Linked DNA regions of Homo sapiens: region 2 is linked to region 1. Evidence: fine-mapped expression QTL. A gene starts in region 1. The other region holds a variant in brackets. All regions are shown on one strand. Distances are between the middles of the regions.

Region 1 (8,326 bases):
TTCCACAGCACAGCCTGGTCAGTCCTGCGCACTATAGTTTTGCAAGTGGCTTGAAGAGGAGTTTCATTCGCGTCCCATCTTTCAGAAGCCTTGTCCAGGTCTCCCTGTTAGCACCTGACTCAGCGGCAGCTTCTGCCGCTGGGTTTTCATTTCACTGTGGATATCCCTGAGGCCATGAGGGTGGGAGCCGGCCTGGGCAGCTCCAACTCCAGAGAAGGGTACAGCTGACCCCGGCTGCCCTCCTGCCAGCTTAGCCCCCTTGGAACCTAACAGATAAACAGGGTTTTGTTTTTTTCCTTTTTTGGGTAAAGTACATGCAACATAAAATTTACCATTTCAGTCATTAAAAATGAACAGTTCAGTGGCATTAAGCACATTCACAACACTGTGCAACTACCAGCACTCTCTAGCTCCAAAGATGTTTTCGTCTTGCCCAGAAAGAGAGCCCACAGTCCTCAGCACGCCTTCGCCATTCCTGCCCGCCCTGACAACCAGAATCTGCTTCCTGTCTCTGAGGATTTCAGGCGCAGTCTTTAGGCCTGACCAAAACTGACCTGCCTGTATTTTGTTTGACTTACAGAAGGATTTTTTTTTTAGATAGATGCCAACATTTGTTTAAACCATAAAAATCTGGCTTTCTGGTCTGCCAGGAAGGATCAGATGGTCTCCAAAGAGTGGGCCCGCCTCTCCTGCTAGGCTGGAGCAGAGTGTGGGCAGGCGGTGACGTCACAGCGGGGAGCCAGCCTCGGACTCGGCTTCTCACCCGTCCCCAACTCATTGTTGTCGGACACTCGTCCCCTTTCAAGCAAAAGCCTTAAAAGTTTTTGCCTTTTTCTTTTTCTCCTCCCGACTTCACTTGGAAACACAGTGTTGGGCTGACTGTGAATCCGCACAGGCAGAGACATTTTTCCAAGTCGCCTTCTAAATCAAAAGCCTTTGGACTTACCCACGTCACATCCGCCTGCTGCTGCTTCTCAACCAAGCTGCCCCCACTCTCGGCCTCTGTCCCCGATGGCCCTCTCGGGCTGTGCAGGTCCCACGGACCCACCGCTGCCTTCACTTCATCCTCGCTGCCGCGCTTGCCTTCTCACGCTTGCCTTCTCGGAGCGCCCCCTAACCGCGCCTCCGGACCTTGCTTCCCGGCTCCCTCAGGCATCCCCAGCTTTTCCCTGCAGTCCCCACTGGGGGCTCCTGGCTCTATCCTATGCCTTAATTGCTGGTGGGCTCCAGCTCCCCTCCTGGCACCTTCTCTCTCATCCTGCAAAGGAGGAGCTTCTTCTACAGAGCTCAGGATGGAGGGTGGGGTCTTGGCCCCGCAGTCAGCCCATTACTCTCGGAAGCCCCCCTGAGCCTTCTCTCAGGCGCAGATTGATCGTCTCAGACAACGGGATGTGTAGAGATAGCTCTCCCGAGTGCCCCCACTTGTTGGGAGCCAGGGGCTCATTCCATGCTGTTTCCATCTCGGTCTCCACCTGCTGGAGGCACAATCACAGCTCAGTTTGTTGGTGCCAGAGTTGCACAAGAAAGTGGGTGCCATTGAACACGAGGCATCAGTCAGGCTCCAGCCTACCTGGGCTGGCCCCAGAGACATCCATCTGGTGTCCCTCAGTTCTCCAATTGAGTTTGTCCAAATAACTCATCTTCCCTTGTGCAAAAACAAAAAACAACAACAAAGAAAACAACGCAAACTGCCTCCCCTCTGGGGTTCCCACTCCCCTCAGAGGGACCACCACCTTCCAAGGCCCCACAAGGATTTTTGATTGCCCTGGGAACCCAGCTCCCAATCCCTCTCAGTTCTCTTTTCTCCTCTGCACCATCAGCCCCAGGCTCTCTCCCCATTTCTTGAATGCCTGCAGCTGCCTCTAAGCAAACTCTGCCTCCAGCCCGTTCCCTCTGCCCCATCCCCATCCTGCAGCCAACAGGGTCCCTCTAAAATGCAGACACTGAAAAGACAAAGCCCAGCAGGGTAGCTCTATAGTGTCCTTTGTGGCCCTGCTGCCTCCACAGCCCCCAGCACTGGGATGGTGGAGGCTGGTGTCCTTAACTCACTGTGTCTCCACCTGACTCCACACTGCCTCTCACCCTGGCCTCCTCCTGTGCCTAGAACAGTCTCCACTGCCATACTTGACCACACCCAGCATACAACAGGTCCTACAGAGTGAAGGGATGAGTGACTCAATGAGTGAGGGGAAGTCCCTGTGGAGACACCGGGACACCATTGTGGGCTGCAGTTTCCAGCCGGGGAAGCCTCCCTCGACCTCTGAGGGGAGGTGGGCCACCCCTTGAGGGCCACTCTCAATGCGCTCCACCTTGGCTGACGGAAGCAAGGACGTGGCCCAGGATCCTGGAGGGCCACTCCTGTGTGCGCCACCTTGGCTGACAGAAGCAAGGACGTGGCCCAGGGTCCTGGAGGGCCACTCTTGTGTGCTCCACCTTGGCTGACGGAAGCAAGGACGTGGCCCAGGATCCTGGAGGGCCACTCTTGTGTGCTCCACCTTGGCTGACAGAAGCAAGGACGTGGCCCAGGGTCCTGGAGGGCCACTCTCACGTGCTACACCTTGGCTGACAGAAGCAAGGACTTGGCCCAGGGTGCTGGACCAGTTGTGGCAGCTGCTGCAACTCACGAAAGCCACCACGTGGTGTTCTTCACCTAACTTGCCCAGTCCCAAGCCCCTGCCCGAGCTGCAGTGAGACAGAGCACTAGCCCCTCTCTTCTCTTTGGGTTCACCCCAGCTGTGGAAGCCCCAGCACCTCAGCACGCCTCCCTTGCCCTGTGCCTTCCTCTGCCAGCACCCCCCAAAGACTCCAACACCCCCATCACGATGTGCCCCAGTCTCCTGTCCTCCAGCCCTTGTCACAGGAGCTGTGAGCCCAGCCCTGGGCACTTCACGCTCTGGAAGACCGGAGTCTCAGACGCCACCTTTCTCCCTGGCAGCCAGGGTCTCTTGGGTCAGAGGAGGCCTGGACACTGCCAGGTTTTGAAGCTGTCAAAAAGATTTTTTTTTTAAAGGGAGAAATATGTCCAGGGAGCTGTAACTGTTACAGTATATTTTAAATGTATGTGTTGAACAGATTAACTTTTTGAACATTAACATACAGCATGACACAGTTCTGCTATCCATGCTGTGATTGCAGGATTGCTTGGAAGCTGTACTGATGTGCAGCCCACCTGCTCATGGTGGGGGGTCCTGTTCCAGGCCACAGAGAGGCAACCAGCAATGCTCTGCTTGGAGATTCGTACAGGAAGCCAAGAAGGAGCTGAGAGGGGCCCAGCCAGTGGTTACAAGAGACAGCAGGAGGTTCAGACCACAGCAAGGGTGGCACTGGAGTAGCCTCCAGCTCATCTTATTTGACTGGTAGAGTGTTATTAAAGCCTTTGAAATCCCTACCAGCTTTTAAAAATCAAGAGATTTCACATAGAAATCCTGATCTCTGGGTTCTTTAGAGAAATCCAGACCTGGGACGCTGGGCTTGCCAGTCCGCACGACCCCACTTGGCTGGAGCCAAGCAGCACTTGCCCCTGTAGAAAGAGCCCGCCCCTGCAAAAGCATGTACGGTTTAGAAACCTGGCTGAGAAAAACAGAGGATCAGAAGGTCTGAGGGAGGAAACAGAGGGGCAAGTTTGAGGGAGCTGGGCAGGGCCGCCTGGCCACCATCAGGGCTGAGCAGGCTCAGTGTGGCACCACTGACAGCTTCTCACCAGGACTATCAGACCGCTTGGGAAAAAGACTTCACCATGAGTTGTGTGTTCATACCTTTTGATCCAGTAAAAGGAAACGGTTGGGGGTGGGGGTGGGGGGCAAGAGTATACATTTTGTGAAAGAAAAAATACACAAAAAGATGTTTTGTGGCATTTGGGTTTGTGAGTTCGAGAACTGAAAAACGGCATTTTATGTATAATGGAAAGCCTCTTTACTGCTGTAGAGTGAAAAGCAGGCTGGCTTTCAGTGCGACGGTCACAAATGTGGGGCTTTACAGTACTTGGAATGTACAGGACGCCCTTAAAAGCCAAGAAGCTTGCCTTTGCTTTGTTTACATCAGTGCATTATGATTTTGAGCCATTATATCTCTTCATAATTGCCACTGTTTTAGGGCTTATGAAATTTAAAGTCTTAACTTGTGTGTTAACCAGCCAAATCTTTGCAAGTGTCTGTGTGTGGTACGAGAATTCGTATTGTGTTCTCTGCTGTTTTCAGAGTTGTTTCAGTCAAAGAAAAAAAAATGCCCGTCTTAAAACTTTTCCTCTGCTTCAAATACAGCTCCCAAGCCCAGGCTGATTGGAATTAATCTGTCCTCCCTTAAAAGGGCAAAAGCACAAGGCTCAGCCCTGGCTTTCCCAGCTCCTCTGGTCTCGCTGCTCCACGGACGTGTGACGTACGCTGGTGAAACGAAGCCCGCTTGAATGGGGGCTTCACTATTGTGTGCTGCTGAACCTAGGCCTAGCGCCTGGCAGGCTTTGGTGAATGTTCAGAAAATGACAATTCATTTCGTGTCAGCGAGGGCACACCAGCTTTGAATATTTTGCTGCTGTTCAAATGCACAATTTTGACAATTACCTAGCAATGTCCAAAGTCGTCATAATTGTTAGTGTCTTGCACGTGATGTTCCTTATAACCATGTAATAAATACAGTGTGAAGTCTCCATGGCTGCCTCAGTGTGGAAAATGCAAAGACTCCCGTGTGTGCGATCTTGGTGAATGTTTTGGTTGAAAGTATGTGTTTTGAAAAAATCATTGCTTTGTTTGCAGCAGTAAAACTGACGGTAGAGTTTCCAACACGAAAGCCCGTGTGGTCGCGCCGGGAGCTCACGGCGTTCCAAGCGGCACTTATCCCGCGTTGATGCCCAGGCACCCCGCGCGCCCTGTTTCACCAGGCCCAGTCACTCCAGCTCCAGCAGCACTGAGAGCTCACGAACGCCAAGGGCGAGAGCGAGGTGGGGGAGGGCGGCCGGAAATGCGCGCGCGGCTCTCTGGGAAATGGAGTTAGGCTCGCGCCGGCGCAGTGTCGGCTGCCGGTGCCGCGGCCTTTGTCTCGCAGTCAGGAGGGTGAGCTAGGCCGGCGAGGAGGGGGAGGGGAGGCCAGGCCGGGCCGGGCCGGGCCGGGTGCGGGGGGTCCGGGGATCTTCCTGAGGCCCTGGCGGGGCGAGTTTCCAGCAGCGCGCGTCTGTGTGGAGTCCGTTTTGCTGCCCGGGGCCTGGGGAAGGCCGTTTCGGGGCTGGCGGGGGCAGGCTTTGCGGGGCATCCCTAGTCTGAGAGGAGGGCGGGGCCCAACGCCCAGCTGGACAGGAGCTGCTCCGACGGCCCCTGAGGGAACGCGCGCCCCGCCCCTGGCCCCACCTCTGCCCCACACCGGGCACTGGGCCGCCACCTTTGTTGATGGAAGAGAGAAACTGAGGCATAGTGCCCAGGGCCAGGGGACCGCAACCACCCGGCCCTTGTCACTGTAGCGTTAAGGCTCAGAGTCTGCGCAGCAGATATGTGTCCGCACCCGCCAGGCCTTCAGCTTCCCTCAGACAGGCGGGAAAACCCTAGGCTGCCCTTCTCCGAGCGGAGGGCCGCCCCACACACAGCAGGCGCTTAAACGGGTACGCGGGGCCCTGGACGGCTCTCCGCGGAGCTCCCCAGGCTCTGGCGCAGTTCCCCGGCTTGGGGACCTGAGCACCGCCTCTGCCTGCCCCAGCTGCTCACCTCCCCTTTCCCACAGAGCAGGGCCAGCCGTTCCTGCCAGAAGCCAGGGCATGACCCCTGGGGTGCGCGTCTCCACAGACCCGGTGAGAATCTCGGCCTCCTTGCGCGTGTCCTCCACCTCGTGCCCGGCCTCCTCGCGCGCGGCCTTCTCACGCCCGGCCTCCTCTTTGCACCCCGTCCCTACTCGCGCTCAGCCTCCTCCTTGTGCCCGGCCCCTACTTGCGTGCCCGGCCCCTACTCGTGCCCGGCCTCTACTCGCACAACTGGCCTCTACTCGCGCACCTGGCCTCTACTGGTGCCCGGCCTCTACTCGTGCCCGGCCTCTATTTGCACATCTAGCCTCTACTCGTGTCCGGCCTCTACCTGCACACCCGGCCTCCTAAAGTCCGCGCCAAGCTCCCCAACCACAGCCTGCCTCTGAAAGGACCGCCCACGCCGCGCTGGAGGTCAGCGGGCACGGGTCCCTGTCTGAGTGGGCTTTATGTTTGTGCGGCCGTCATTGCATACCTGAGGCTGGGTGATGTCAGAAAATTGTAGGTGCCCCGGCTCTGCAGTCTGAAGTTGAAGGCCTTAGCATGCTCTGCGCTCCAAGATGGCGCATCGAGTGCCGCTTCCTCAGACGTCATGGAGGCCAAGGGGGCGGAACTCGCCTTTTTATGATGACATTAACCCCACCCATAAGCCACCAGAAGAAACCAGCCTCCTGTAGGAATGTCAGAAAACCCGTACAAGGGGACTGGTGCGATGGCTTGTAGCTGTAATCCCAGCTATGGGGGAGGATTGCTTGAGCCCAGGAGTTGGAGGCTGCAGTGAGCCATGATGTGCCACTGCACTCCAGCCTGAATGACAGTGGAACCCTGTCTCTAAAAAATTAAAAAACAAACCCAGATTTGGCCGGGCGCGGTGGCTCGCACCTGTAATCCCAGCACTTTGGGAGGCCGAGGTGGGCGGATCACGAGGTCAGGAGATCGAGACCATCCTGGCGAACACGGTGAAACCCCGTCTCTACTAAAAATACAAAAAAAAATTAGCCGGGGGGGTGGCGGGCGCCTGTAGTCCCAGCTACTCGAGAGGCTGAGGCAGGAGAATGGCGTGAACCCAGGAGGCGGAGCTTGCAGTGAGCCAAGATCATGCCACTGCACTCTAGCCTGGGCGACAAAGCGAGACTCCGTCTCGGGGGAAAAAAAAAACCACCCAGATTCAGTCTTTAGACTTCTGCTACTAGCTTTATAACTTTGTTTATCCCCTAGGCTGAAGTGCAGTGATGCAATCATGGCTCACTGTGCTTCAAACTTACGTGCTCAAGTGATCCTCCCACCTCAGCCTGTTAAGCAGCTGGGACCACGGGCATGCGACACCATGCTGGGCTGGTCCACTCCTTTATTGCTGGCTCCCTCCATTTCTTATTTCAAGAGACAAATTATTGGAAACGGGCATGATGCCTTAGATTCTAAGATCCTCCACCTCATCAGCAGGGCACCCATCCAGGCCCCACAGAAAAACCTGACCCAAAACCCCAGACCAAAGGGAACTCCATCCGACCCAGCCTGGCTGGCATTTACCAGCTACCCCACCAGCAGCCAGTGCCAGGGTTGGCTTGGCTGAGGACACTCGTGTGATGTTTCAGGAGCAAGTGACGTTTGAGGACGTGGTAGTGGGCTTCAGCCAGGAGGAGTGGGGGCAGCTGAAGCCTGCCCAGAGGACCCTGTACCGTGATGTAATGCTGGACACCTTCAGGCTTCTGGTCTCTGTGGGTAAGGCCACACCCATGTCCTATCTGTTGATCTGTCCCTGACACGGATTCTGATTCTACCAGGTTAAATATTTATAGGACTGAGCTTTAAAAGCAAATGCCTGGGGCTGTATGTCTTGGGCTTTAAGAACCTGACTGTTTTAATGTAGGAAATATCAATTAAGACCAATATTAGCAAGTCTCAGACTCAACCTGAAATCAACAGAAGCAGAGAAACATGAGGTGAGGGAAACATACTGGGTCTGAAGACTACAGAATCCCAGGGTAGACCAGGGTGTTCTGTAGAGCTGTTAGGAGCCCCTCCTTCTTCAACACCTCCCTCTGCACTTCTGTCTTAGTCTGTTAGGGCTGCTAAAATACCTTAGACTGGGTAATTTTAAACAATAGATATTTGTTGCTCATGGTTCTGGAGGCTGGGAAGCCTAAGATCAAGGTGTCAGCAAATTCAGTGTTTGGTGAGGGCTTGCTCCTCACTGATGGCACTTTCTTCCTGTGTCCTGACATGCCATAAGGGCAAGGGAGTTATCTCAAGCTTCTTTTATAAGGGCACTGATCCCATTCATGAGTGGAGCCCTCATGAATTAATCACTTCCCCAAGGCCCCACCTCAACACTATCAGATTAGGTATTACATTCTAACATTTGAACCTTATTTATTTATTTATTTATTTATTTGTTTTTAAATTTTTTATTTTTGAGACAGAGTCTCGCTGTGTCACCCGGGCTGGAGTGCAGTGGTGCGATCTCGGCTCACTGCAAGCTCTGCCTCCCGGGTTCACACCATTCTCCTGCCTCATCTTCCTGAGTAGCTGGGACTACAGGTGCCCACCACCACGCCTGGCTAATTTTTTTTTTTTTTTGTATATTTAGTAGAGACGGGGTTTCAC
Region 2 (8,326 bases), 150 kb after region 1:
GGATTTACCAACCTGTTTTGCAGAGTGGTACAGCATTTTATGTTCCCACCAACAGTGTGTGAGCATTCTAGTTTTTCCACATCCTCTCCTGTTATCATCTGTCTTTGGTAACAGCCATGCTAGTGGGTTTGAAGCATATTCCACTGTGGTTTTGACTTGCATTTCCCTAGTGAATAATGGCGTTGAGCATCTTTTCATGTGCTTGTTCTCATTTGTCTTGCTCTGCTTTTGACTTACAGAGTATCCTGAGCTCCAGCTGGACCCTAAATTGGATCCTCTTCCTGCTGAGAGTCCCCTAATGAACATTGAGGTTGTTGAGGTCCTCACACTGAACCAGGAGGTGGCTGGTCCCCGGAATGCCCAGATCCAGGCCCTATATGCTGAAGATGGAAGCCTGAGTGCAGATGCCCCCAGTGAGCAGGTCCAACAGCAGGGCAAGCATCCAGGTGACCCTGAGGCCGCGCGCCAGAGGTTCCGGCAGTTCCGTTATAAGGACATGACAGGTCCCCGGGAGGCCCTGGACCAGCTCCGAGAGCTGTGTCACCAGTGGCTACAGCCTAAGGCACGCTCCAAGGAGCAGATCCTGGAGCTGCTGGTGCTGGAGCAGTTCCTAGGTGCACTGCCTGTGAAGCTCCGGACATGGGTGGAATCGCAGCACCCAGAGAACTGCCAAGAGGTGGTGGCCCTGGTAGAGGGTGTGACCTGGATGTCTGAGGAGGAAGGTAAGTAGAAGGGTGGGTAGAGGGACAGCTTAATGAGGGTGTCTTGGAGTACCCTGTGGGGGAGATAAGAACTCCAGGCTTCCTAGGAAGGTCATGGGAAGGATTGTGTCCGCTCCATACAGACCAAGGACATCCATGTTGCCCACGTGTTCCTGAGTCAGAGCCACTGAAACCCTTGCATTCTTTAGCCCTTCGTGGGCTTCTGATGGAAGCACACAGATGAAGTGCTTCATTTTTATCCCTCTGGCATCCCTGCTGCACCATAAGCCCTGTAGCACTTGATAAGATAGATGGGAATACTGAGCTCAGAGAGCCCGCAGTAGCAGGAGAGACAGGGATTTGACAAATGAGAATGCATAGAAAAATGCTGGGACTATGAGGAGCTCGAGGTGATGGTGAGGCTTATGAAGGTCTGCAGCTGACACCTGGTGTGGAGTGGAACTTGGCCAGGGTAAAGAAAGGGGGCAGGAAAGATGTGCCATGCAGAGGGGAGCACTGCCTGTAAGGGCCAAGATGGAAGGGATCACAGTAAATGCAAAACTCAGAAAAATCGGTTATGTTTGTGATGGAAGGGAGCAGAGGTTGGAGCTGGCACTGCCAGTGGGGACTTTAGTCCTAAAGCAAAGCAAAATGTTCTTCTAAAACAGTAGGGCTCGATCCCTGAGTTCCAGAAACTGGTGGCACCACTGGATTTGACCTTTAGAGATTTACCAGGCTGCATGTGTGGTGGATGGTGGACAGAGGATGGGGGCGAGGCTGGACACAGGCTACCCGCAGCTATTGCCATGCCCTCTGATGGGGTGGTGTCTTGGATAGGAGTGATGGTGATGTCTGACTGGGGAGAGACTACACGTGTGGAGTGTGTATTTGGGAATAAGACTGCAAGACTTGGTTTCTTCATCAGGCTGAGTTTCACAGAGCGTGCATGCTTCTGCATTGCTCACCTCCATTTTCCACATTTCACGGGTGCCCAGAAGATGTTTCTGATGTGAACGAATGATTGACTGGTTGATGTTTGTGATTGCAGGAAAGGGGAAGGTATCCTGCAGGGGGATGGTGGGATTCTAAGAGGCCAGGGCATCCTGGAGATCGGGTATCCGAGGCAGCAGGGCAGGCACTTGCATGAGTTGTGTCAGATGCACCAAGTCTGGGGTGCTGTACTTGGCAGAATAATTGCCCCAAAGGTGTCCATGTCCTGACTCCTGGACCCTGTGAATAAGTTGCCTCACATGACAAAGGGGACTTTGCAGAAACAATTAAGGATCTTGAGAGGGAGAGATGCACTGGATTATTTGAGTGGATCTAACATAACCACAGGGGCCCTTAGGAGAGGGAGGCTGGAGGGTCAGAGGAGATGTAATGATAGGAGCAGCTGATAGAGGAAGAAGCCATAAGCCAAATGTTTGGGGCAGCCTCTAGAAGCTGGAAAAGGCAAGGAATGGATTCTCCCTTGGAGCCTCCAAAAGGAACATAGCCATGCTGACACCTTCATTTTAGCCCAGTGAGGCACAAACCAGACTTCTCATCTCCAGAACCATAAGGTAATACATTTGCATTAATCTGAGCCGCTGGCATTGTGGCAATTCACTATAACAGCAATAGGAAACTAGTTAGTTAGGTGCCAAGGAGACAGTTGTGGGGTTAATGAGGTGAAAGTCAGTGAATTCACCCTGTGTTTAACCTCAGGGGTGAATAAAATAAATTAGTGCCACAGAAGACAATGGGAAGAGGCTTTCCAGAGAACCCTGAGAATCTCACATTATGTGATCAGTGTGTTAGTTGGGACGCTTGAGTGTGACTGCTGCAAAGCCTTGCACAGAATGGCTCAAGGGAGAAGGAGAATTTATTGGAAAAGTTCCAGGGTGCTCGAGCATCAGGCAGGGCTGGACCCAGGAGCTCCAATAGTGTCCTCCAGACTTGTCCTGTCCCTCATTCTTACCTCTTCTGCCCTCCACTGGCTTCATCATGGGCAGGCTGTCTCCCTGCATGGGATTTCTCTTTCCCAAATGTTCCAACTAAGGCCTTGTTGGCTCCAATCATCTGGCTATAGGCTGTGTTCATCCCAGATCTAATCACTGTGGCCAAGAGAAAGGGATGGTCCAGTGTGCCAGCCTAAGTCATCTTGTGGCCCACCTTGATGGTGGGGGTAGATTAGCATTGTGGAAGCCTGTGGACCATTTGGGGTCATGTGAGGAAGGTTAGAATGAAGGAGCCGTGGTTACAGGGGCCCTTGGGCCAGGTGGAGCTGTTGTTTTCTTAGGTGGAGGAGACTTGGTGACGTTCACCTCAAGATGGCTGCATTTCATGGGTCCAGGGAAAGTCTCACCTTCCATGAGGTGGGAGGAGAGA[G/A]GGAAGAAGGAAGAGGTGCCCAAATAGGCAGGGTGCAGGGCTTGGAGGCCGGAAACAGGGGCTTTGACTCTAAGGAGGGGGCGTCAGTCAGCTGCCTCACAGGAGGGGCTGGGGCCCTCAGCAGCCCCCGGAAAGGGAAGGAGTGGGACCAGAGTCTCAGCAGTGAGGACACTGGTGCCCTGTGACCCTTGGAGGGTGAGCCATCCCGGGCCCATCCAGGTGTGGGCACTCGGGCACGTGCTGTGAGGGGAGCAGAGCTGGTGGGAAGGGAGGACAGGAGCAGAGGCTGTCATGGAGCCACAGTACGATGCAGGGGTGCGGTGGCCCCATGGGTTGCAGAGAGGCCACCCTTGCCCTGCCTAAGGGTCCCCACACCTGCTGACCTCCTCTGGCTGGTGTCTCCTCCCAGTACTTCCTGCAGGACAACCTGCCGAGGGCACCACCTGCTGCCTCGAGGTCACTGCCCAGCAGGAGGAGAAGCAGGAGGATGCAGCCATCTGCCCAGTGACAGTGCTCCCTGAGGTAAGCGGGGAGTATCACCCTGTTTTGGTCACAGCATCTCCTGTGAGGCAGGCCCACCCCTGAGGCATCCACTCTGCCCTGGGCTTTCCTAAGACCTCCCACAGGCTGGGACATTCTGAGATTCTGAGCTCTTAGGTCTGTGCTGAAGCAATCTGAGTATGAAGAGCAGCCCTGCCCTCCAGCCACTGTGGCATCACTGGAGACAACGCATGGTGACCCGGGAGCTGAGAAAGCAGGAGGCAAGAGGGAAGGGACTAAGTGTTTACAGAGACTTGAGAGGTGGAACTACCACAGGCAGGCACATCTGTATCCAGGTCAGAACAAGAGAGCCCTCAACCTTCAGAAATGCATACTTAGGTATTTATCTTTGGTATCTGGGATTTGCTTCAGAATAACCCAGAGCTGGGGTGTGGGTGAAAAAGATTGGTCCTGATGCGCTGACCACTGGGGTAGTGGTATGTATGTGTCATTGGTCAGACCTGTTTGCACTGCAAATGGCTTATACTGGCTCAAGCGTAGAAGTCAATTTATTGGCTCTCATGTATTCTCTGGTAGGCTTCAGGCAAGGCTGCATCCAGGTGCTCCCAGGTGATGGGAAGAATCTCTGGCCAACCTGTTTCATGGCTCTGCTTTCTCCCCTTTCTTCTTCTTTTTTTTTGAGATGGAGTTTCACTCTTGTTGCCCAGGCTGGAGTGCAATGGCGCGATCTCAGCTCACTGCAACCTCTGCCTCCCAGGTTCAAGTGATTCTCCTGTCTCAGCCTCCTGAGTAGCTGGGATTACAGACAGCTGCCACTACACCCGGCTAATTTTTGGTATTTTTAATAGAGACGGGGTTTCACCATGTTGGCCAGGCTGGTCTCGAACTCCTGACCTCAGGTGATCCACCCGCCTTGGCCTCCCAATGTGCTGGGATTATAGGTGTGAGCCACTGCGCGTGGCCACTCCCCTTTCTTCTTAGGCAGATTCTGCCCCATGTAAGCAAAATGCCTCAGATCCTGGCAAAGCAGCGTTGGGGGTACCTCTTCTTCCCAAAGTCCTGGTCAGTTCCCCAGAAAGGACCAGTCATGGCTGTGCCAGGGTGACTGCCCTCCCCCAGGTCAGCCCTGTCGACAAAGGCAGGGGCTTGGTTGTCATTTCCACCAAGTGGGAAGACAGTATTAATAGATGGAGAACCCTCTGCAGTGGGAAGATTTCAGCAATGGGCAAGCTGGATAGAGCCGTGGTTAGGATGGAGTTGTTTGCTTGTTGCACTTGGAGCTCTTTATGAAGCAAGGGCTCTGCCTCCCAGCCTGAGACCCAGACCCTGGTTTGGACCCAGTAGAACTCTTGTGGGCCCTGGGTTGGTGTCTCTGAGCAAATCCCCAAAGCAGGAGAGTCCCTAGCACCGTGAGCTCTGTCAGAACCTCCCAGCTGGCCTTTCTTCTGCCCTCATTGACAACCCTCTGACCCTCTTGCTGAGCATAGACACATATGTGATGTTACAGGAGCCAGTGACCTTCCAGGATGTGGCTGTGGACTTCAGCCGGGAGGAGTGGGGGCTGCTGGGCCCGACACAGAGGACCGAGTACCGCGATGTGATGCTGGAGACCTTTGGGCACCTGGTCTCTGTGGGTAAGGCTGTGCCCCCTCTTCACCCACCTCAGGGCTGGTAGGCCACAGGAGCCCCAAGTCAGGGGTGTTCACCTTCTCTAGACTCCACACTGGGCATTCCCTCAAGGGGCCCTTGCTGCATCCAGGGCCTGTAAGTGGAACTGTAGACCTAGAGGGGTGAGGTCACTGGGTGGCCAGAAGCAGCCTTAGGTCCGGTGAAGGAGTGATTTGCTATCTATCTCCTGAGGGAGTATGAGAGAACAGGAACTCGAAGAGCTCGGAGGACACTCCCTGCCCTTCCTGTCCCTTGTTCACCAAGGTCAGTGCTCCCCTCCCTGCCGCTTCATTGCTTTTCAGTCTCTCTCCAGGTTGCATGACTCTATTTGGGAGAAAAAAAAAATCCTGACTTTTGAACTTAATTATGCATTTCATGCTCTCAGACCCATCCCAGCACATCTCTCTATGGGATCCACATCTTTTGTTTATTTTTTTCAGGGTGGGAGACTACACTGGAAAATAAAGAGTTAGCTCCAAATTCTGACATTCCTGAGGAAGAACCAGCCCCCAGCCTGAAAGTACAAGAATCCTCAAGGGATTGTGCCTTGTCCTCTACATTAGAAGATACCTTGCAGGGTGGGGTCCAGGAAGTCCAAGACACAGTGTTGAAGCAGATGGAGTCTGCTCAGGAAAAAGACCTTCCTCAGAAGAAGCACTTTGACAACCGTGAGTCCCAGGCAAACAGTGGTGCTCTTGACACAAACCAAGTTTCGCTCCAGAAAATTGACAACCCTGAGTCCCAGGCAAACAGTGGCGCTCTTGACACAAACCAAGTTTTGCTCCACAAAATTCCTCCTAGAAAACGATTGCGCAAACGTGACTCACAAGTTAAAAGTATGAAACATAATTCACGTGTAAAAATTCATCAGAAGAGCTGTGAAAGGCAAAAGGCCAAGGAAGGCAATGGTTGTAGGAAAACCTTCAGTCGGAGTACTAAACAGATTACGTTTATAAGAATTCACAAGGGGAGCCAAGTTTGCCGATGCAGTGAATGTGGTAAAATATTCCGGAACCCAAGATACTTTTCTGTGCATAAGAAAATCCATACCGGAGAGAGGCCCTATGTGTGTCAAGACTGTGGGAAAGGATTTGTTCAGAGCTCTTCCCTCACACAGCATCAGAGAGTTCATTCTGGAGAGAGACCATTTGAATGTCAGGAGTGTGGGAGGACCTTCAATGATCGCTCAGCCATCTCCCAGCACCTGAGGACTCACACTGGCGCTAAGCCCTACAAGTGTCAGGACTGTGGAAAAGCCTTCCGCCAGAGCTCCCACCTCATCAGACATCAGAGGACTCACACCGGGGAGCGCCCATATGCATGCAACAAATGTGGAAAGGCCTTCACCCAGAGCTCACACCTTATTGGGCACCAGAGAACCCACAATAGGACAAAGCGAAAGAAGAAACAGCCTACCTCATAGCTCTCAAGCCAGTTGAAGAAACCTTGCCTTTTCAGCTTGACCCTGCAATATAACATGCACAGGCCTGCTTGTGAATCAGGACTGAATGTGAAAGGGAAGTATTGAGTGAGGACATTCCCAAAACCAAAGGACAACTGAGGAGACTGCCCAGCACATAATGAATAAATAAGAAAATGAGTGAGGAGTTATTAACATCATTTGGAAAAAAGATTTCCCATTCACTTGATATTGTTTGTTCACTCATTTAGTCATTAAAAGTGAGATTAATAAAATCTGAAAATGTTATATAATAACTTTAAAAAGCCAGGTAATTAATAATCTGCACTGATATTACATCCACAGTACCACAGTATTTATGTGTATGAATTAAGGATTAAAAGATAATGTGGATAAATAAACTATTGATCTATGTCTGTGTAGAACCTGTGTATTTCCTGCCTGCTTAAATATCTCTATAGTAATGATTAATATTTAAGCAACATTAAAACACAAGGAAGGAGATCATCAGATAGTTCTAGAAGATTCTGTGCAAGGCTGCAGCACCTTGGGCACAAGATACTATGTGAGTTGGGATGACTGAATCTTTCTGCTCCTTAGGGGGTTGTCATGATATGGTTAGGTGGAGGTAAGGAAAATTTAAACCCAAAGGGCTGGAAACCCCAGGCAAGTGTGGGGCTTCCTGGGAATATTCATGTTTCTTTTGTTATTTTTCGCACAGAATCTCATCCTGTCACCCAGGTTTGAGTGCAGAGGTAGAATCATAGCTTACTGTAGCCTCGAACACCTGGGCTCAAAGGATCACCTGGGCTCAAAGATCCTCCTGGCTCAGTCTTTCAAGTAGCTGGGACTATAGGCATGCACCACCATGCCTAGCTTCATTTGGTTTGTGTTTCCATTTTTCCTGAGAGACTATCACAAGGAAGGCAACTGCTCTGGCCAGGAGCCCATCACTAAGTTAAGCAAAAAGACACTGGCAATACTAGAGCATGTACTTGCCCACAGTTCACATTCTTTCTCCAGGTCACATAGCCCACAGTATATGACCCGCTCCATTCCTTGTTCTAGGCTCCACCTTTGCTCTTGAGTTCCATGTAACATTTAACATAAAACTCTGGATCAAAAATACTTAGGTTCAAGACACTGGTTGAGTGCTACTCTGCATAGCCTCTTTAGAACCCTTGGGTCTTGCCAACAAGGGTGAGGTGCAGTCGTGCCATCTAGGATGAGAGTACCTCCTTTCTCTGCAGAAGTGAAAAACCCTTGGAGACAGGACCAGAGTAGATACCTTGAGCCCATGTGCCTGGAGAATGATGGTGGTACACCAGCAGCCCTATTGCCATTCACACATTGGGCACAGGGCTTGTGGTTGCTATGTTGCTTCTAGTCATTTCAGCACTTTAATATGGCACATGTTAGCTTCTTTGAGAACATACACAGTTGAAGAACTTGCCCAGGGACGTTAGTTGGTAAAAACAGCCTCCTCAGCTGTTCAGAACTCTACAATATCACCTCTCAAGAATGAACCAAAGAATGGGACCCTTGAGATTAGAACCTGGTAAACTAAAAATTCCCAGATTCCAAATCCTAGACTGAGGGGTGAGTCCAAAGTTTTAGTGATGGCTTCAGGAACTGAGATGATGGTTTGAGCTGGGTCTGGGAAAAT

Evidence for each region.
Region 2: its variant is fine-mapped to the expression of ZNF135 in whole blood (INTERVAL, PIP above 0.99).

What each region holds. Positions count from the first base shown.
Region 1 is chr19:58,054,266-58,062,591 of GRCh38, forward strand. ZNF135 (zinc finger protein 135) reads left to right here and starts at 5,017. Exons shown (of 5, transcript NM_001289401.2): 1 at 5,017-5,045; 2 at 5,704-5,770; 3 at 7,315-7,441. The coding sequence starts at 5,738. ZSCAN1 (zinc finger and SCAN domain containing 1) reads left to right here. Exons shown (of 6, transcript NM_182572.4): 6 at 1-366.
Region 2 is chr19:58,206,481-58,214,806 of GRCh38, forward strand. ZNF274 (zinc finger protein 274) reads left to right here. Exons shown (of 8, transcript NM_133502.3): 5 at 240-722; 6 at 3,481-3,593; 7 at 5,080-5,206; 8 at 5,681-7,082. The coding sequence ends at 6,663. Among named protein-coding and RNA genes, the nearest start is that of ZNF544, 18 kb to the right of the region's middle. The variant G/A (reference allele first, on the strand shown) is at 3,072.